Homo sapiens: one gene and its partner. The protein of the gene in region 2 purifies or fractionates together with the protein of the main gene of each other region. This does not show direct contact. Each region holds a gene or a part of one and is shown on either strand. Other genes may lie near its edges.

Region 1 (3,653 bases), on a different chromosome or scaffold from region 2:
AAAACTGAGAAAGCAACAAAATTTAGAACTTTGAAATTAGATTAAAAAATAGTAACTGACTGAGCAGACCAAAGAAAACTGAATCCTAAGTCAGCGATGAGAAAGCAAAGACAATGATTATCATGTCAGGACCCTCAAAAATTCAGAAATTAAAAGCTCCAGCTACCAGAACATTTGCATCAGCCAAGTATATACCCTCTAGATAGAATACTGGAATACCTTATCTGAAAAAATCTGATTACCACAAAAAGAAAAACACCTAAAAATACTGACATCAGGGAATGTGAAAAAACAGCCCTCCAGTGAAGCCTGCAGTCAAGCAAGTTCTATTCAGATGTACAGAGCTTCCAATCAATTTTAGCAGCCCACCGTTACATGAGTGAATGGCCAACAATCAACAAACATTTCAGAAAAGTCTAAGTCAGAAGATAAAAATAACTAACTTAAATAATCAAGTTGAAAACAGACTATGCAGGAAAAGAAAAATCTAACAGAAACAAAACAGCCTATCATTAATATCCTTTGAGAGAGGAGGGAAAAAGATATTGCATTACTGTAGGCATGAATAATAAGATGCTACAACTAAATAATAAAGAAAAATTTTCTTGGAAATTAACAACAGAAATGAAAACTAAGTACAATAACATTATAAGAATAAAAAATTCTCCCAGATAATGGAAAAGATGAAAAAGAGAAAAACAATAAAAAAAATTAGAAGACCATTCGAAGATATCCAATATTATCTAGAATAGAAAAGAAAGCAGAGAAAAAAGTAAAAGAAGAAAGTGTTCCATAAGTGAAGGATATGTGCTTCCAAATCGAGAATGCTTGGTACAATGGATGAAAACAGACCAAGACACATAACTGTAAAATTTCAGAAAACTGGTGACAAAGCTCATACATTCACAGCCGGGGGCGGGGGGGGGGGGGGGGGCCGGGGGGAAAATCTATGCATATGTGCACAAATGAATAAAAAATATTTTAAGAAAACGTTGTAGTCAACGTTTTCTCATACATACATGTTATCTATTCCCACTAGTCACTTCTCTCTTGCCATTCACTCTAATTAAATAATTACACAATTGTTTTTGTACCCAATTGAGTGGCTTTATTTTTATACCTATTAAATTTCTTTTATTTTGCTTTTTAAAAAAACTTTATTCATATTGAAGTACATAAAAGGCTGTTACCTCAAGAATGTCAAAACACTGTTAAGTGTTGAAGCTGTATGATAAGCACCTAAGGGTTCATGTGTACTATTCTACTTGTTACTGGGTTTGCAAATTGTTTAATGAAAAGTAAATAAAGTTATCTTAAAGAGGCTGATGGGCTGTCTCACACTTAAGGATGAAAAAATTCTATTTGCAGCAGATATGAAAATAAATTTTAATTCTTAAATCCACTCCTTTGCCCATTCATCCTCATAAGTGAGTTCAGGCCCTAGTTCATTTTAGTCCCATAGTATGGCAACAGCTCCCTATCTGTTTCACACCCCTTTCATTCTACAGCCCATCCTGCTGCCAGTTCCTTTTCTAAATACCAGATCTGCCACTTCATTCTACTGCTCAGGAACTTTCAAACAGCTTCCTATTGGCTACACAAATGTTTGCAGGTTAGTTTAAAATCAATGTCCTGCTCATCATGGCCCTATTTCCACCATTTCCTACGGACCACAATATACATAAAGAAAAAATGTTTGCCACACATATTCTTAATACACACCCTATTCCCAAATCAGTATTTCTACCAAACATATTAGTATTTAAACACACTATCAAGGCAAGAAAACCATGAAGACTGTACCCATCGAATTAAAATCTTTCATTCAGAATCCAATCAGAATGGAATACTCTATGACCTCCTCTCACATAGCCAAAAGAAACTTCAAAATAAATTTTTCAGTACACAGTATGTATATAAAATACACATTCATAACGGCTACCTTCAATGAGACTGACCCCTAGGAGTTTCTTTTTATTCTCTTTTTAAGTCTACTACAAAAAATGAAGTATACAGAAGCTAACAGTTTATGATGGCAGTTCTCATTTCTATTAAAAGAAAATAAAATGCACTGCTGCTAATGAACTAGTTCATTAAGACAACTTTTCTACCCATTGCAGTCAAGTTTAATATATTCAATGCCTATATAGACAATATAACCCAGAAAAAACTGATGACCCTTTAAAACACAACAGACATCATCACATACTTTCAAAATATTTGCAAAAGAAGAACCAAATACTTACGCAAAGTAGGATGTAAATTAAAATAAAATTATCTATATAGAACTGTGTACAGTAGAGTGGTTGTATCTGCAGACATAGCACACACACTGCATAAGGCAGTATTCTGGTGGACAGGGCTGCAAACCCAAAAGGGGAGCAGTGGTCTCTTTCCAGTCCACTAAAGTTCCCTGAGTATACAACCCAATCTAAAAGCCACTCCCAATCTTCATCCCAGTGTCATTCAATATAAGAGTCAACTATTAAGGTAAAGAAAAAAGAGTACACAATCAGTTTTCCATAAAAGAACTATGACAATATAGTATTATTCTTTGGACTGGGTCTGTGATCATACCATGGAATGGAGAAGCCAGAAATCAGACTTGTTATACAAGTTGTAGTATCAACCTCAAAGTCTCTCACATAAACCTACTCCTTTTAAGAACAAATTTTTAAAATCAATGGCAGTATCTCATTATGTTGAGTTCTTAAAGCCTCTCAGAGAATGCCTAAGATTTTTGAAGATATCTTGAGCTATCAGGGCATTACACCAATGATATCAGTGTTATAAGTGTCATAGAGATAAACAGTATGCCACCTTCCTTACCATTTTTTTAAAGAGAACAAAAAAGTTTCCAATTCTGTTGATAAAGATTAGAGTATTATCTACAATGAGAGCATAATCTGTTGCCACTAACTTTTCTATCCTACAAACATGTATTACGACTCAAAATGAAATCACAACATATAGCAAACAATAGTTTTACTCGGCATTTGTTAGTATAATAGGCTATAAATTCACATGCTTGCAAAAGTGGAGATAAAACAACAATCAGCAAATTTGTAAGTCACCAGGAAGCTGAAGGTTTGGAAAAAAGGTAGCTATTTCCACTTTAATCTTGTCCCTTGAGTAGTGGCATGGGAGCAGACTCAAGAACAAAAAATGAGAGCAACCAAGGATAATTTACTAAAATTCACCTTAAAAAGATTGAATCTGCCATCTTGGATCTCTGCACCTGGTGTAACTTCCATAGTACAGTCTTCGGCCTAAGTTAAATAACATATTCCCCATTAAGATACCACATAATATTTAATTAATAGGCCATATAAAGACAAACTAGCTGTGGCTAGTCTGTGATTTGAAAGTAAGAACATCAGATAATCATTAAATACGAAACTCTAAAAGGGAGGGAAGGGAAAAACAAACATGGTAAACAAAATGGAATTTTTAAACTATCATATAGCATTTAACCACTTTTATAGGGAAGCGATTTATTTGGGGAGTAAAAGTGGGACGGTAGACAAGCCAAGGGTATTCCGGAGTATTTATTAATTACCGTAATTTTATTTGTAGTAGAGGTTACTGGTATAACTTCAAGTCCCATTCGTATCCTCTTTTGTTTTTCACAGTAAGCTTTCCAGGTATCTTCA
Region 2 (3,653 bases):
AGTGTGTGTGTCTCTCCATAGGGACTGAGCACAGTTCTCAATCAGGGCCAGCCCTGATTCCAAAAACCATGCGTGCTACCCAGCTAGCAGAAGGAAAGCCTTGGACTGGTCAACAGAGAAGTCCTACCCTACCCACAGCAGAGATTCTAGAGGTTGGAGAGTAGTCTGGGAGGAACAACCACATATATGTGTCCCACATGCATGATGACATGCCTTTCAAAGGAGAGTGAGGGTTCGCTGGGAACCATGCAGTGCTGCTGGGTGAGCTTCCCTGGGGAGCAGAAAGGAGTGGGAATAAAGGGATGAGGGATGACGGCACGTGCCTGCCTGCACTCACCTTCATGTAACTCGGGTTGAGTAAAAGATTCATCTTGGGACTAAGGGAAGTGGAGAGAGAGACGATTACAGCCCAGCTCTCGCCCTCCCATCTTCTGCTCATTAACATGCTCTGCGCCAGCCTGCTGCAGATTTCATATTTCAGAACCCTGTAGGGAAGTTGCCCTCCCTTAGCCAGGGCGTGAGGGAGAATTACAGAGGACTGGGGAGAAATGGGCATTAAGTGTTTCTTCTCTTATTACTAGAACAGTTTGTGAAAAGATCGACACCTATCCCCAGCATGAATACACATTAAGAGGATGGGTTAGAGTTCTGAGATTGCCAGGGTCAGGCAGTGGTGCCAGGAAAATACTGGAGCGGATGCTTGCCAGATGCTTCATTTTCCACTAAGGACCAGCGAAGGTATGGAAAGATCTAGAACTAGAAGGCCAGGCCTAGCACTCTGGTGGGAGTTGGTAACTGAGGGATCATACTTACTGAGCAAATTGGCACTTGGGTCCCTCGGGGCAGAAGCCAACTAAATAGTTGAGACACATTATTCTGGGGACATGGCGGTATTTACACAGAGGACCTGCTGAGCAAAGAGAAAGTGATGAGAAGGATCCGCTTCAGCAAGAGGGGAAAACACACATGAAAAAGCTCCCTAGGAAGGGTGTGGATGGTCATAGGGGCTTCACTTAATAGGGGTGGATAAATCTTCCCATCCTTTCTGTACCACCCTAAAGCATCCACTTCTAGCCATGAGACAGGGATGGGGAAAAGGAACCTTGGAATGTGCTGGAGCAGGTGTCAGCTGGCAAGTTCTGAAATAGAGTTGGAAATGTCACTGACATGCTGTGTCCTGGAGGACTGCATGGATATGAACCACACTTTGTTGCCTTTTATTTATTTAAGTATGGGAGGTACAGCTGAGAAAAAGCTGACCTGGCCGGGTGGGGTGGCTCACACCTGTAATCCCAGCATTTGGGAGGCCAAGGTGGGTGGATCACTTCAGCCCAGGAGTTCGAGACCAGCCTGGGCCACATGGTGAGACCCTGTCTCTACTAAAAATACAAAAATTAGCTGGGCATGGTGGCACACACCTGTAACCCCAGCTACTTGGGAGGCCGAGGCAGGAGAATTGCTTGAACCTGGGAGGTGGAGGTTGCAGTGAGCCAAGATCGCACCACTGCACTCCAACCTGGGTGATAGAAAGAAAAAAGCTAACCCCACAATCCTACTGATCTTCTCAGCAGCCCTCACCCCCGCCCAGATCCCTAAAACCAACAGCACTAAGAACTCCGTAAGAAAAACCTATCTGAAGACAAAGGAGAGGGAGAAACCCTGTTGCTTAGGGCATGGGAACCCTGCTGGGGTAAGCTGCCTCTTAAATTTGGCTGGCAGCAATGGGAAAGGTAGGACATGCTTAAGCAACACTCAGGACCCCCCAGGTGGGTAAGTGGAATGCGGAAGAGAGCACACATGAACTAAGCGTCTCCTATGGGCCTGACCCTGTGTCAAGAGCTTCCTGTGTGGTTCAGTAACTTGGAGAAAGGCATGCAGCTGATACATGCTGAAGGTAGGATTTGAACCCAAGTCAGTCTGCCTCAAGCCTGTTATGGCCCCACACCAGGCTGTGTTTTGTGTGTCACAGCAGAGCTGGAGGAGAACTACAGAAAGGCCTTCTATTTGGGGTTTCTCCAAGGCACAGCCTCATCAGGAAAATGGCCCCTCCCCTGCTGAGAGCTCCCACCCTGATCCCCACAGCCCCTAGGGCTCCCTGGCTTCCAAGGCCTCACCGTCCTTGCAGAAACCTTGGTCATACCAAGGACAGTCCTGGGACTTGAAAGCTGGCTTCACATGGAGGAAGGAACACTCCTTGTTGCTGCAGTCACCTGAAAATCCCAGCACTCTCTGTAGAAGCAGTTTCTCTTTGTGATCACTTCTGTGTCCCCAAACCAGATTGACCTTGCCCCTCACAAACACAGAAGACACTGGCCTTTATTCTGGGAGTCACCAGCTTTTTGAAGATGGAAAGTATGCCTAATCCTTGCTGCAGTCTAAAAAGGGTGGATCCCAGTCCTATTTGCTAAGCAGGGCATGGTCTGAATATACACCTCTGGAAGAGTAAGAGTGAGGGACCCCAGATGGAGAAGGAGGCACTGGAACTGAAGGCCATTAGAGGCTAGCAGGAACAAGGAGAGCCGAGAAGGCCTGCGACGTTAAGTGGAGATATTTCCATGTCGCTGTAACTGCAGCCCCCTCTTCATCTCTACTACAAAACCCATGCTGCCTGCAGAGCCTAGGGAAGCTGTTCCCCTTGGTGGAAATGCAAAGAAAAGCAGAGCCCTGCTCAAGGTGGCACAGGTATGAAAAGAAACATTCTACAGAGTGGGCACCTGCATTATACTAAGCCTGCGTCATCATCTCTCTATGGATTAGACCAAGTCTCAGGTTTAGTTTATTTCCTACAGGGAGCCAGCCCAGTAGGCCCAGGCTACCCAAGTGTCATTATTATTATTATTATTTTGAGACAGGGTTTTACTCTGTTGCCCAGGCTGGAGTGCAATGGCGCAATCTTAGCTCACTGCAACCTCCGCCTCCCGGGTTCAAGCAATTCTCCTGCTTCAACCTCCCAAGTAGCTGGGATTACAGGCATGTGCCACCACGCATGGCTAATTTTTTGTATTTTAGTAGAGATGGGGTTTCACCATGTTGGCCAGGCTGGTCTTGAACTCCTGACCTCGTGATCCGCCCACCTTGGCTTCCCAAAGTGCTGGGATTACAGGTGTGAGCCACCACGCCCGGACCCAGGTGTCATTTTAAGAGCTCTCTTAGATTTCTCTTAGGAAGAAAGCTCTGAAGGAAGCATGGGGGAAGATTCATCCCACTTTCACTTCATTCAAGTTGAGAACTCATGAATCTTTCCAACTTCATCCTCCTTAAATGTCTACAGCTCAGTGCTTTTCAGAGCTGAAGGAGCGTCGTAGCGTCTATTCCACTGATTTTCAAATTGCTCCAGGAAGATCTATTTTATACACTGGGCCTCTACAGAGCAAGGTTTCGCCTAAAGGAAAGTACCCCTAGGCCAGGCACAGTGGCTCATGCCTGTAATCCCAGCACTTTGTGAAGCCGAGGTGGTGATCCTTAGGATCACCTGAGGTCAGGAGTTTGAGACCAGACTGGCCAACATGGTGAAACCCCATCTCTACTAAAAATACAAAAATTAGCCAGGTATGGTGGCACGTGCCTGTAGTCCCAGTTATTCAGGAGGCTGTGGTGGGAGAATCGCTTGAACCTGGGAGGCAGAGGTTGCAGTGAGTCGAGATTGTGCCATT

What was found. Proteins that work in one complex are often made in the same cells at the same time.
Region 1: the proteins of CPSF4L (region 2) and FIP1L1 purify together in Homo sapiens (affinity purification with mass spectrometry; 3 studies listed by BioGRID and IntAct, with this or other methods). This does not show direct contact.

The regions. Positions count from the first base shown.
Region 1 is NC_000004.12:53,391,046-53,394,698, reverse strand, and holds part of FIP1L1 (pre-mRNA 3'-end-processing factor FIP1), read right to left. Parts: coding exon 3,560-3,653; intron 3,270-3,559; coding exon 3,201-3,269; intron 1-3,200.
Region 2 is NC_000017.11:73,251,817-73,255,469, forward strand, and holds part of CPSF4L (putative cleavage and polyadenylation specificity factor subunit 4-like protein), read right to left. Parts: intron 2,211-3,653; coding exon 2,115-2,210; intron 908-2,114; coding exon 814-907; intron 1-813.